Regions from separate parts of the Homo sapiens genome. Here all the other regions are reported to be linked to region 3. Evidence: microRNA targets listed by miRTarBase, many of them from high-throughput screens and not tested one by one. Region 3 holds a microRNA gene; each other region holds the end of a gene's coding sequence.

What was found. Region 3 holds the annotated microRNA hsa-miR-513b-5p (UUCACAAGGAGGUGUCAUUUAU, at 2,108-2,129, opposite strand). A microRNA usually pairs through its seed, bases 2 to 8, with sites in the 3' UTR of a target mRNA and lowers its output. Matches are read on the target gene's strand: a 7mer-m8 pairs with bases 2 to 8, a 7mer-A1 pairs with bases 2 to 7 and ends in A, and an 8mer does both.
Region 1: the mRNA of ZNF555 is a reported target of hsa-miR-513b-5p. Seed matches in the 3' UTR shown: 7mer-m8 at 1,083-1,089, 7mer-A1 at 1,090-1,096, 7mer-m8 at 1,115-1,121 and 7mer-A1 at 1,340-1,346.
Region 2: the mRNA of CCDC81 is a reported target of hsa-miR-513b-5p. Seed matches in the 3' UTR shown: 7mer-A1 at 2,849-2,855.
Region 4: the mRNA of CD101 is a reported target of hsa-miR-513b-5p. Seed matches in the 3' UTR shown: 7mer-m8 at 2,656-2,662.

What each region holds. Positions count from the first base shown.
Region 1 is chr19:2,853,322-2,856,470 of GRCh38, forward strand. ZNF555 (zinc finger protein 555) reads left to right here. Exons shown (of 4, transcript NM_152791.5): 4 at 1-3,149. The coding sequence ends at 631. Among named protein-coding and RNA genes, the nearest start is that of ZNF556, 12 kb to the right of the region's middle.
Region 2 is chr11:86,422,506-86,425,633 of GRCh38, reverse strand. CCDC81 (coiled-coil domain containing 81) reads right to left here. Exons shown (of 15, transcript NM_001156474.2): 15 at 2,528-3,060. The coding sequence ends at 2,919. Among named protein-coding and RNA genes, the nearest start is that of CCDC81, 49 kb to the right of the region's middle.
Region 3 is chrX:147,196,986-147,200,134 of GRCh38, forward strand. MIR513B (microRNA 513b) reads right to left here and starts at 2,142; the gene lies at 2,059-2,142. The region is part of intron 1 of LOC105373347 (periphilin-1); the gene reads left to right.
Region 4 is chr1:117,033,851-117,036,999 of GRCh38, forward strand. CD101 (CD101 molecule) reads left to right here. Exons shown (of 10, transcript NM_001256106.3): 9 at 10-284; 10 at 2,318-2,702. The coding sequence ends at 251. The region is part of intron 2 of CD101-AS1 (CD101 antisense RNA 1); the gene reads right to left. Among named protein-coding and RNA genes, the nearest start is that of CD101-AS1, 24 kb to the right of the region's middle.

The DNA.
Region 1 (3,149 bases), not on the chromosome of region 3:
TGGAGAGAAACCCTATGAGTGCAAGCAATGTGGGAAAACTTTCAATTGGCCCATATCTTTACGAAAACATATGAGAACACATACTAGAGAGAAACCCTATGAATGTAAGCAGTGTGGGAAAGCCTTCAGCTTGTCTGCTTGCTTTCGAGAACATGTGAGAATGCACCCTGAAGACAAATCCTATGAATGCAAGCTATGTGGGAAAGCTTTCTATTGCCACATATCCTTACAAAAACATATGAGAAGACATACCGCAGAGAAACTCTATAAATGCAAGCAGTGTGGGAAAGCTTTCAGTTGGCCTGAACTTTTGCAACAACATGTGAGAACGCACACTGTAGAGAAGCCCTATGAATGTAAGGAATGTGGGAAGGTCTTCAAATGGCCATCATCTTTACCAATACATATGAGACTGCACACTGGAGAGAAACCTTATCAATGTAAGCATTGTGGGAAAGCATTCAATTGTTCCTCATCCTTAAGGCGACATGTGAGAATACACACTACAGAAAAACAGTATAAGTGTAATGTAGGACATCCTCCTGCAAATGAATTCATGTGCAGTGCTTCAGAAAAGTCACACCAGGAGAGAGATCTGATCAAAGTTGTAAATATGGTGTTGCCTTTATGAGTTCCTTATCCTGAAAGTGGACACTCAAGGAGTGTGTCTGTAGTTCATTTGCAAATAAACATTTAGTTGAAAAATAATTCTCCAAATACTCTCAGCTATCCTACATGAATTTGAACAGGTAGTTTCTTACGATTCAGTAAATAAAACTTTCATCTTAGAGTGTTTTGGACTCATGGATGATTTGAAGTGTATTTTTAATATGCAAGTAGGTTCAAGTTTTATTTAATTTCTTAAATTGTAACTGACTTAGTGTGACAGGTATTGGATATTACGTATCTATTATATTTTCCACCTTTTTTACTGGGAGTATTTTTATTGTTTGGCCAGAGGAGCCTTATTCCATTTTTTAAGAAGTAGTTGGCAGAATTTTGTAATTATGCAAAGTTGTTTAAGGAGTATAGCCTCAAATGAATTGTAATTTTTAATGTTTGCCCATTGCTGTTTGTCTTTGCTTGTGATTGTGAATTGGACAGTAGGCTTTGACTTGTGATGTGACGGAGAAATCCAGAGTTGCAGATAGTTCTTCTGCATTGTTGTCAGTGTGGGTAGTGTTAGGAACTTCATTTGCTGGAATGCATTTCCTTTATGGTTCCATGTCCAAATTTACCAATAGCAATAACTTGAATGAAATTTAGAATGAAGAAGAAGTAAGTCATCGCTGAGCTTTTGGGGTCACATTAAATGGAGATGGACAGATGCATAGGGGCTTTGTGAACATCAACCTTCAGCTTATTTTCCAGATTCTTATTCCTGCCAATCAAGAGTACCATCAAAAGAAACACTTAAGTGCTTGATTTCCACTGTGTCAGAGGTGTAGTCTTCCTCAGACATCTCCATTAACTTGATATTAGGGATATTCCTGTGTGGTCAGTCACCTAGAGTCTGGATTTTTCTCAAAACCCTGCATGACCTCTTGACCACTGATTCAGACTGTCTTGTTTGGCAGTCTCTGAGCTTCTGATTCTCCCGTTCTGTAGATCTTAACATATTTGCATGGGGTCTAATTTATATAGTGAACACCTTGTTATCTTAATACTTCCAGTGGCTCTGTGATCCTGATTCCACCACGAAAGCCACAGTGTTGCAGTCAAAGAAGAAAAACAACACATGGGACTTTGTACCCTATTGCATTTTTAAGTGTGCCTGCCGAGTCCTATGTGAGAACAAATACCTTCCTCATATATTAGATTTAGGGAGATTTCTGTTACTCAGAACTAAATGCAGTTTCTTGATATAGGTTAAATTATTAGGTTTGATTATGTATCATTAAAAATAATGTGGATTTTGTTTCAAGGAAAACCTTCTGTAGATATTTCTTAGAAATATCCTGTTTAGCTGGGCACAGTAGCTCATGCCTGTAATCCCTGCACTTTGGGAGGCTTGAGGTCAGGAGTTTGAGACCAGCCTGGTTAACATGGTGAAACCCTGTCTCTACTAAAAACACAAAAATTAGCCAGGCATGGTGGTGAGTACCTGTAACCCCAGCTACTTGGGAGGCTGAGACAGGAGAAGTGCTTGAACCTAGGAGGCGGAGGTTGCAGTGAGCCAAGATCACACCACTGCACTCCAGCCTGGGAGACGGGGAAAGACTCCATCACACAAGCAAGAAAAGAAAAAAAAATCCTATTTACTGTGCTTTCAAATTAGTTGTTTAGAGACTATATTAATTTCCCAGGGCTGCCATAACAAAGTACAAAAACTGGGTGACATAGGAAAACAAACTTTTTGTTTCTCAGTTCTGGACCCAGAAATCCAGAAACAAGGCATTGGCAGGACCATGCTTTTTCTGAAGATGCTAGGGAAGGATCTGTTTCAGAACTCACCTAGCTTCTGGTAGTTCCTTAGCTTGTGGCAGCATAACTCTAATTTTCACATGGCATTCTCCCTGTGTGTGTGTCTCTCCATGTGACAATATTTTTATACATACACACCACTCATTGGGTTAGGCCCCACTCTACTTCAGTATGATTTTACCTTAACTAATTACATTGGCAACAGCTCTCTTTTCGCATACTGAGGCACCGCGAATTAAGATTTCAACGTAAAAATTTTAGGAGACCCAATTCAACCCATAACACTAAGAAATGTTATTTTTTGTTTACCGAGAGAATTACAGATTTCAAATCAACTTTGTAATTTTGATAATTTAAGCATGTTACATTTTGAATCAGTATTACCAAGTATATACAAATACAGGTATTTTTTCATATAAATGTTATTTTTAATTGCTGTATACTTAACATTTGCCATTAAAATGATTTTTTTTTTTTGAGACAGAGTCTCGCTCTGTCACCCAGGCTGGAGTGCAGTGGCACGACCTTAGCTCACTGCAACCTTCATCTCCCAGGTTCAGTTGATTCTCCTGCCTCAGCCTCCCGAGTAGTTGGGATTACAGGCATGCACCACCACACCCAGCTAATTTTTTTATTTTTGGTAGAGATGGGGTTTCACCATGTTGGCCAGGCTGGTCTTGAACTCCTGACCTCAGGTGATCTGCCCACCTTGGCCTCCCAAAGTG
Region 2 (3,128 bases), not on the chromosome of region 3:
ATTGTACAAAGCCTCAGGAAAAAAAAGTTTGATTTTTTTTTTTTTGAGACAGAGTCTGGCTCTGTCACTCAGGTTGGAGTGTGGTGACATGATCTCAGCTCACTGCAACCTCTGCCTCCTGGATTCAAGTGATTTTCCTGCCTCAGCTTCTTGAGTAGCTGGGACTACAGGTGCATGCCACAACGCCCAGCTAATTTTTTGTATTTTTAGTAGAGACAGAGTTTCACCATGTTGGCTAGGCTCGTCTCGAACTCCTCACCTCAGGTGATCTGCCTGCCTCGGCCTCCGAAAGTGCTGGGATTACAGGCATGAGCCACCACGCCAAGCCAACTTTGATATATTTTTGAGATCTGTTGCACAGTGTGGTGAATATAATGAGCACTGTACATGTCAATATCACTAAAAGAATAAATTTTAAATATTCTTATCACAAAAAGTTAAATAAGGTGATGGACATTTTAATTCACTTGATTTAATTATTCCACATTGTATTCAAAAATCACAATATCACTTTATACCCCATAAATATATACAACATAAATATTACAAATAATTTGTCAATATATAATTTTTAAAAATAGTTTTTAAAGGGTCTGACTGTAGTACTGACTGCTACCTATGACAGTAAATTGTAAGTTCAATTCCTCCAGTGAAAAGGTCTATGAAGTTAAATCTGCTCACCTGAACATACCAAAATTAACTTTTTTTTCTTTAACAAGGAATTCTTTTTTTTTTTTGAGACAGAGTCTCGCTCTGTCACCAGGCTGCAGTACAGTGGCACGATCTCGGTTCACTGCAATGTCCACCTCTCAGGTTCAAGCAATTCTCCTGCCTCAGCCTCCTGAGTAGCTGGGACTACAGGCGCGTGCCACCACACCCAGCTAATTTTTGTATTTTTAGTAGAGACAGGGTTTCACCATGTTGGCCAGGATGGTCTCAATCTTTTGACCTCGTCAAAAGATTTGATCCACCCGCCTCGGCCTCCCAAAGTGCTGGGATTACAGGCATGTGCCACTGCACCCGGCCAGCATTCTATATTTTTAAAATATATTAGTACAACACTATTATAGTAATTTATTATATATTAGAAACAAATTACTTCAAGGGTGCAGCAGATATAGATTCAGGCAGGTCAGGCAGTCTTGGGGAAAGCCTATTGTTTTAAATATTGGTTAATGATGATTGGCCCTCCATAGAATGATTTTTTGAGGAAATGAAAGGCAGAAACGGAGAAAGATTAGGGAAGACGTTCCAAAAAATTGTGATCATCAGCAGGTATGCTTGTTTTCATAGAAAAAGATAACATTAGCAACAAAATTTGCCCAATATCAGCTTGAGTGAATATTTTCTCCACAATTATTCAGGGCTCAACACATTCCTATTTTGTATTTGTAGGGCAAAATGAAAGTTTAAATGTTCACAAACATCTTCCCACAAAAACTTTCCCTTATTTCCCAAGGGAGAGATGTGGCGGGCAGAAAGCAAATAGTCTAAAAGACATCCTTCTTAGCTTTTGTATTTCAGAAATCTAGACTTCACTCTGTTTTACTTCAATTGGTCAGACAGGGCAGGGAGAGGAGAAGAAAGTGTTGTACCTGAGCAAGTTAGAGAAAACGCCACACTTTGAGACAAATTAAGAGTCGGTTTATTTAGCCAGTGGCCAAGAGACGGCTAACGCTCAAAGTTCTCTCAGCCCCGAAGAAGGGGCTAGATTTTCTTTTATACTTTGGTTTAGAAAGGGGAAGGGGGTCTAGTTAAAACAATTTTACAGAAATAAAGTAGGCAAAAAGCTAAAAGGATAAATGGTTACAGGAAAGTAAACAGTTCCAGGTGCAGGGGCTTTAAGACTATTACAAGGTGATAGACTCAGGGCTTTGGGCGTTATCAGTCAGACGAATTCCTGGGAATTGTGGATATTGCTCGCCACAGTATCTTATCAGTTAATTGCATTCTTGGATGTGCAGCTTGCACAAGTTAAGTCCTTCAGGAAGGGGCTGCCAGTGAAAGAGCCAAGATAGAGTCTGTCTGGCTCTCTTAGCTAAGGGAGAGTCAATTCACGTGGAAACAAGGCTAGGTGATTAAAGGAAAAGGGAGAGTCTAAAAACAGGGTTAGTAAAAACAAGGTTGGGCATTACAAAAGTATGAAGATAAACGAAGAAAGTTTTTAGTTGAGAACAGCCATACCTTAACTGAAAGTCAGTCCTCTGACAGGGAGTTAAGTCCTCTTGAACAGCACCTACAGCTTAAGAATGAATGCAAGTGAAGTAGTGGGAGACTCACCTCACAGTGCACAGTTACTCCAAGGGTGTAGAAATAGCTGGACAAGGGAATGATATCTTGGGAAGGCCCACTAAAGTCCCAGGTATGTCATCAATGAGAAAACTCAGGGAGCATTGTTCTGGCCTCCTGGGGGTAAATAGTCTAACCCATCTCTGTGATATTCACACATATACCCCTCTGGAAAAGTCTAGGACTGGGGGAAGAGGGAGGGGTAAAATGTACCATTATGAATTGTCATGCACAGTCAGGCGCTTAAAAAATATTTATTATTGCCACTATTCATTACAGATGAAAAAAGTTTTGTACACAAAGTCATGGAGCAGCAGCAGGGCTGGGTCAGCAGCACCCCAGCAGCCATAATGAAGCTGGATCCCATTCCCAGCCCCTGTGCAGCAGGTTCTAGCCCTCAGGACCATTCAGACACCTTCACTGCCATCAGAAACTAGTATAGGAAATAATTGGGGGTGGGAGGAAAGCAGGAGTGAATTCAATAAGGGCTTAACAAGCAATCTAATGAAAGCACCAAACCTAAACAATGATTTTTTTCTCTGAGGTAAAAATACGCAGTTTCACAATCACCCCCAAACATGTAAAAGATAAAAACTTTCCCCGGGAAACGAAGAGCCAAACTTTGAGTTTTACACAAGCAACCGGGAGCCAGGCAGGAACTTGTTCAGGGGCCACAGGTTGCTCTCGCCCACGTTGGAGGTGCGCCTCTGGCATTGCTTGCAGCGCCGATACTTCTCACACTGGTCTAGGAGAAACAGCTTGTCTGAAGCCCTGAGGAGAGGAGAGCAAATGCCGATCAGCAGGTTCCTGGAGTTCCTGGAGGCCCAACTTGGAAGCTG
Region 3 (3,149 bases):
TTGGTTTTCTATTGATACTGAATCAAATTGCCACAAATTTAGTTGTTTCCAACAACACAAATTTATTATATTAGGGTCTAAAGGTCAGAAATCTAAATTAGGTTTCTCTTGGCTAAAATGAAGGCATTGGCAGGGCTTTGTTCCTTCTGTTGGCTCTAGAGGAGAATCTACTTGATTGTCTTTAGAAGAAGATGCTACTTGCTTTCTCCGTTCTTTGGCTCATGGACTTTACCTCCACCTCTAGTCAATACTATAGCCTTTTCCAATGTTTCTCTTATTCTAACCGCCTTTCTCCTACTTATAAGGACCCTTGTGATAATGTTGGGCTCACCTAGATAATCTAGGATAATCCCAATCTCAAAATATTTAATTTAATCACATGCACAAATTTTCTTCTGCAATAAAATGTGTTGTTTACAAGTTCAGGGGTTACTCTGTAAACATTGTTTTGAGGGGGCTGTTATTCTGCCTACCACAGAGATCTTGTAATTTTTTTCTTAGAATTTCACCTAAATATTTTATGTTCATATTATTTTATTTTTCAATTAGCTTGATTTAATCATTTCCTAATGTACACATATATCAAAACATCATGGTGTATACCTTAAATATATACAACTTTTATGTCAGTTAAACCTTAATAAATTGGTAGAAACATGGATGAATAATACAAAACAGAATTTCTCTGAAAGAAAACATAAATACCAGTGAATATACTATTCTTTTTGAGTAAATCATAAAAGAGATACGATAACAACTAAATTTTCTTACTTTCATTTTAGGATATCACTTAAAGTTATATAAGTAACATGCTTTCACTATAATACAGTTTTAGAAACTATATACTAAGAGGAGTTATCACTTTGGAAAATTCTACGTACATACAGTATTTCAAACTGACAGAATTTTTTTACTGTTCAGAATGTTCCCCCCGACCCACACACACATACAAAGATTCTTTGTATTCTATTAGTGCAATTGTTTCATTATGGAAAAGATACATCAACAGATTTTTTTTTTTACTTTCAGTTACTAATGGTCTTACACATATTCATCCATTCTGAATCTAAAAAAAAAAACATAAACTAAAATCCTCCCTGTAACCATATAGTAATTTTTTAACAGTTTTTCCCTTTCAGTGTATATGCTGTAGCCTCTATTTCAGTTGGAATCAAAATTGTATTAATCACTTACTATTTCTAAAACATTTTTTACACATTTCCACAATATAAGTAGCTTATTTATAACCTACTTCCCAAACATGCATACTGGTTTCATGCTGCAGAAGGCATCACACAGTCTGGCGCTTGTCTCTCTCTCTCCCTCTCCCTCCTTTTCTCTCTCTCTCTCTGTGTGTGTGTGTGTGTGTGTGTGTATTTATTTCCCTCTCTCTCTCTCTCCATTGGGTTAAAAGTTAAGAAGTGTCACCAGAAGAAAATGGAGAGAGAAGCCTGGGAGACATCTCCTGAGTATCAGTTCTGTCACACCCTTTCATTCTTCAAGTGTATTCTTAAAAAATGGGGAAAAAGATAATGAAAAAGAATGAAATATTCTTGGATGGACTATGCTTAACCCATTGTAAACTGGTGACATATAGCTTTGAAAGGTAATTTAAAAGTCAATGAAAAACATTTTAGTCTTTGAGAGACAAATGGACACTGTGGATCAACAATGAAGGGACCTGAGAGGCAGGAGAGTCTTTTGGGAGCTCTAAAGGAGAAGCCTTGCAAATGATGACTAGTTGACAAGAGAGAAAAGTTTAGAGAATTTAGGAATCTGGAGTACAACCTTCCAGCTGACGAAGAATGGCTGTGGCCTCTATACAATGTATTTCTTATTTGAGCCAAGCCTCATTTGGCAAAAATAGTTAAATTCTTAAAGAACTTGAGTGCATGCGTTTTCTCAGGAGTCCACAGTTCCTATGTCTAGTCGTCTAGAAGGCACAAAAAGTTCCTTGAAGTAGCCCAGCACTGAGGAGTGGGTGCACAGGATCCAAAACAGGCATCACCATGCTCGCAGCTACAGCCCCATCCCTAGGGACACCACATATGCAGTGCATGCTGTACATTACTCCTCTCAAAAAGGTGACATTTATATTTTAGTTCACATAAATGACACCTCCTTGTGAAAGGCACTGTACACTGAATGGCTGAATGTGGCATCCCAGACCAAATGCTCCCTATTCATGCCATTTTTATTCAAGTCCCTATATAGGTGTATACATTAGCATGGCCACCAAGATTTATGCCAAGGAATTATGCAAATCCTAGCCCCCAGTGCTCCCCTTTCATCCTGCCCTGAGTGAGATTTTAACATGCAGATTTTTGTTTTATTTTGTTATAATCCCAGCCACCCAGGAGCTGAGGCAGGAGTACACCTTGACCCTGGGAGTCAGGTTTCAGTGAGAGGAGATCAGGCCACTATACTCAAGCCTGGGTTACAGAGTGAGACCCTGTCTCAAAACAAAAACAAAATGTAATAGAAAAAAAAAAAAAAAAAAAAACATAAAATTACTGGTTAAGTAGAAAGGACCAACCACTCACCAAAGCTTTCTGTTGTCCTAAACTCCAGCTGTGCTGCACACACCTAAAGTCCATCAGAAAAACCACAGAATACAACAACCTGGATGCAAAGAAGTGGAGAAGAGTCAGAGGGTAACAGGTTGGAGAGAGTAGAAATTTCATTTCTTCTTCAGGCTATGGAGCAGGAAGAACCCATAGAAATTAATACAAGATACACACAAGACAGATAATGGGCTGGAAGACAGGAAATGCTATTTTATTTCTCTTAGCTCCATGGTTCTTTATAGTTCATTTATTTGAGTGCCTGCTCACTCGCTCTGTGTGTGTGTGTGTGTGTGTGTGTGTGTTATTAAATAGTAATAGCTGTAAGATTTTTAGTTCTAAGATTCTTTGCATTAATATATTTTCCATCCTTTTACTTTTACCCAACTTTCACGTAGGTCTTCATATTTAAAATGGCTTTGTTTTAGAAAGTATATAGTTGTTTCTTATTTTTATATAAATTGACAATCTCTGTCTTAATAGAAGCATTTATATCATTTATATTAATACAATTATTTACATACATGCATTTAAATCTACTGGCTTTCTGATTGTTTTCTATGTTTCATCCTTTTCTTATTCCAA
Region 4 (3,149 bases), not on the chromosome of region 3:
TCGTTGCAGAGCCCACGCTTCCTTCCAGGATCTGCTCCTCGGCCCCTTTACTCTATTTCCTGTTCATCTGTCCCTTCGTCCTGCTCCTCCTTCTGCTCATCTCCCTCCTCTGCTTATACTGGAAGGCCAGGAAGTTGTCAACACTGCGTTCCAACACACGGAAAGAAAAAGCTCTCTGGGTGGACTTGAAAGAGGCTGGAGGTGTGACCACAAATAGGAGGGAAGACGAGGAGGAAGATGAAGGCAACTGAATCCCAAGAGGCACCTGCAGCCAGGAAGGAAAGGTGGGGGCTTTTTAATTGGGCTAACCAGGGTGTGAATGAATCCTGGTTCTGTCCTCAACTATGTCTGCGGCCTTGGGCAAGTTACCTAGGAATCAGAGGGAGCATTCACTGAGTGCTTATTGGTTCTACGCACTGTTAGGTGTTCCTTTGTGTCTTACCTCATCCACCTCTCGCATCCCCCCTTGGAACAAGATAGCATCATTACCCTACATCTCTTGAAGGTTCAGGTCCCTGGGCTGCAAGGAGATAAGAGGCTCCCTCACACAGCCTCTGGAGGGCTAAATGAGATCCTACAGCAATGCCCTGGTGGGGCTTCTCTCTCCCTCTTATGTCACTTGTCACACCTGCTCTAGGTAATCATTTTCCTCCAGATGAGAGGTGTAGGAAAGGACCTGATGCCAGCAAGGAAAAAGGAATTGGTAACATGCTCTTTGTTTACCTAAAATCTGTCCCCACAACAAGAATGTAACTTCCTTCGAGGCAGAAATTCAATTTTCTTCTCCCAGCCCACCTACAAAGGCCCACTCAAGAGCAAGTTCTGTGTAAAGGTGCTTAACTAATACAGGTTCTTTGACAAAATGATAAAACATTTGTAACCTGAGTTTGGGGCTTTTTGTTTATTGTTTGATAAGACTTTTTATTAAGTAATTGCTGAGCAAAAACTTTGTAAAAACTCATGTAACAGTACTCCAGTCAGCCCCCCAAGGCCTCGTACCCCTGCTTCCCCCTACACCTCCATATCCCCACCAAAAGGTCCATCTGGCTCCTGGTGCTCAGCCAGTGCCTTATTTTCTTTGACCTGACAGCACTGGGTGGTAGGGAAGGTATTGTCTGGAGGAGCAGGGTTGACAGTGCCACCGTTCCCTCATACGCCTGCAGGGCTGGGGTTTGGGGCAGCAGTAGGTCAAGTCTGGTTCCTCAAGGTCTCCTATTCTCAGTAGCAAAAAGCAGCCGGTGGGGGTGGGGTGTAATGGCTTAAAGCTTTCAACAGCTGTCCCCACTGGGCCTACAGTCCCCTCATCTTTGTTTCAAAAGCCGCTCAGGCCCTGTTGTAGCCAGAATTGGAAATCAATCAGTGCCACCTAAAGACTTGAGAAAACACATCTATTTATTATCTATGTGACCAACCGAGTTGCTTTAACACTCGTTAATTTGCATTTCCAAGGAGAGCAATTTAGTTTTAATTATTTGATCAGGCACACACGTCCTCTCCAAACATAATTAGTTCCTTCCTAAGGGGATTATTGGTGGCTATGAGCACTCCTACTATGGACCTACCAGTTCCTTAAACTCATGTCCCTTCATAGCCTGATTTAAAATACTCCAAATCTTTCCTTAAACATGTCAGCACATTTGTTTCTTGTCATCCAGGTAAGGGAGCATATTTTTACAAACAACAAAGCTGAAATGAAGACTTTTTTTTTTTTTTTTTTGAGATGAAGTCTCGCTCTGTCGCCCGGGCTGGAGTGCAGTGGTGTGACCTGGGCTCACTGCAAGCTCCGCCTCCCGGGTTCACGCCATCCTCCTGCCTCAGCCTCCCAAGTAGCTGGGACTACAGGCACCCGCCACCATGCCTGGCTAATTTTTTTTTGTATTTTTAGTAGAGACGGGGTTTCACCGTGTTAGCCAGGATGGTCTCGATCTCCTGACTTCATGATCCACCCGCCTCGGCCTCCCAAAGTGCTGGGATTACAGGCGTGAGCCACCACGCCCGGCAGAAGACTCTTAGAAAGTGTGATGACCCCCTGCCCCTATTTTTTAGAAACCTGTATTTTAATTCAAAGGGAAAGAGAGCAGAAGTGAGCCTGGGCAGAGAATCTTGGATGGACTCTGCTGCAGCCCTCTGTGGGAGCACTCTTCACCCCATCCCTCCTCTCTGCTCACATGGACACCTCCTTCAAGCTTCTAGCTCAAACACCTCTTCCCCTTTTGAATCCAGCACAGAGATAGCACAGAGGAGATGTAAGCAGACAGGGAGGGTCTCCTGGGAAAGCAGACATTTAACCAACTTGAGCAATCAGCTTGTTTTACAGCTTCCTGCCTTGCTGCCTGTTTCTTCCCAAGCCCCGTGTGGAATGTGGTGACCTAGTCACCTGGAACCAGCTCCTGACAGACCCCGGCAACTTCTAGATGAACCCAAGTGAACTTTCCTCATTACCATCCTGAAGTCACTACCCCAGGGGGAGCTATAGCTTCATGACCGTAACATGTGACCTGTGTGCTGGCAGGACGACTCACTGCGGCTGCGCCACTGGGACCCCTCCCCTACATGCACCAATGCACTCTCTCCCCTCTCCATCACCCCATAAAACCCTCCTGTCACTTTCCTTCAGAGACACCGCTTTGGAGAGTATTCCCAGCGCTCTCCTTGCTTGTGACAAGTAAAAAAAAAAAAAAACTCCTTTTCATCAAAACTCATGTTCTTGTGGAGAGTTATTTGTTACTCGCCAGGCAAACAAACGCTGGTTTTTTTCAGGGAACAGAGACCCTCAAATATGAAACGGTTCCGGCCAGAGCACAGCATGGGAAGTGTGAGTTCCCAGTGGGTACCTGCTGCATGTCAGGCCCTGTGCTAGGAGCAAGGGGCCCTGTGGTGACTCAGACACAGCCCCATGCCCCTGGGATGCTCACCTTGTTTGTCCTGGATGCTCTGCTTTCATTAATGGGACTTAGAGCACCTTTGATAGTCTAAGCAGCCACATGGCACTCTTTGTCCCATAGGCAACTAAAATCCTCCAAAACTAAAACACCCCCACAGTATTTTCTTCTTTTTAAATTTACAGAATAAAATTTGCCCTGATCCAGTTCAGCAGACATTTTATGTGAAACCTCTTCTCTCTCCAATTACATACTGTTTACCTTTGG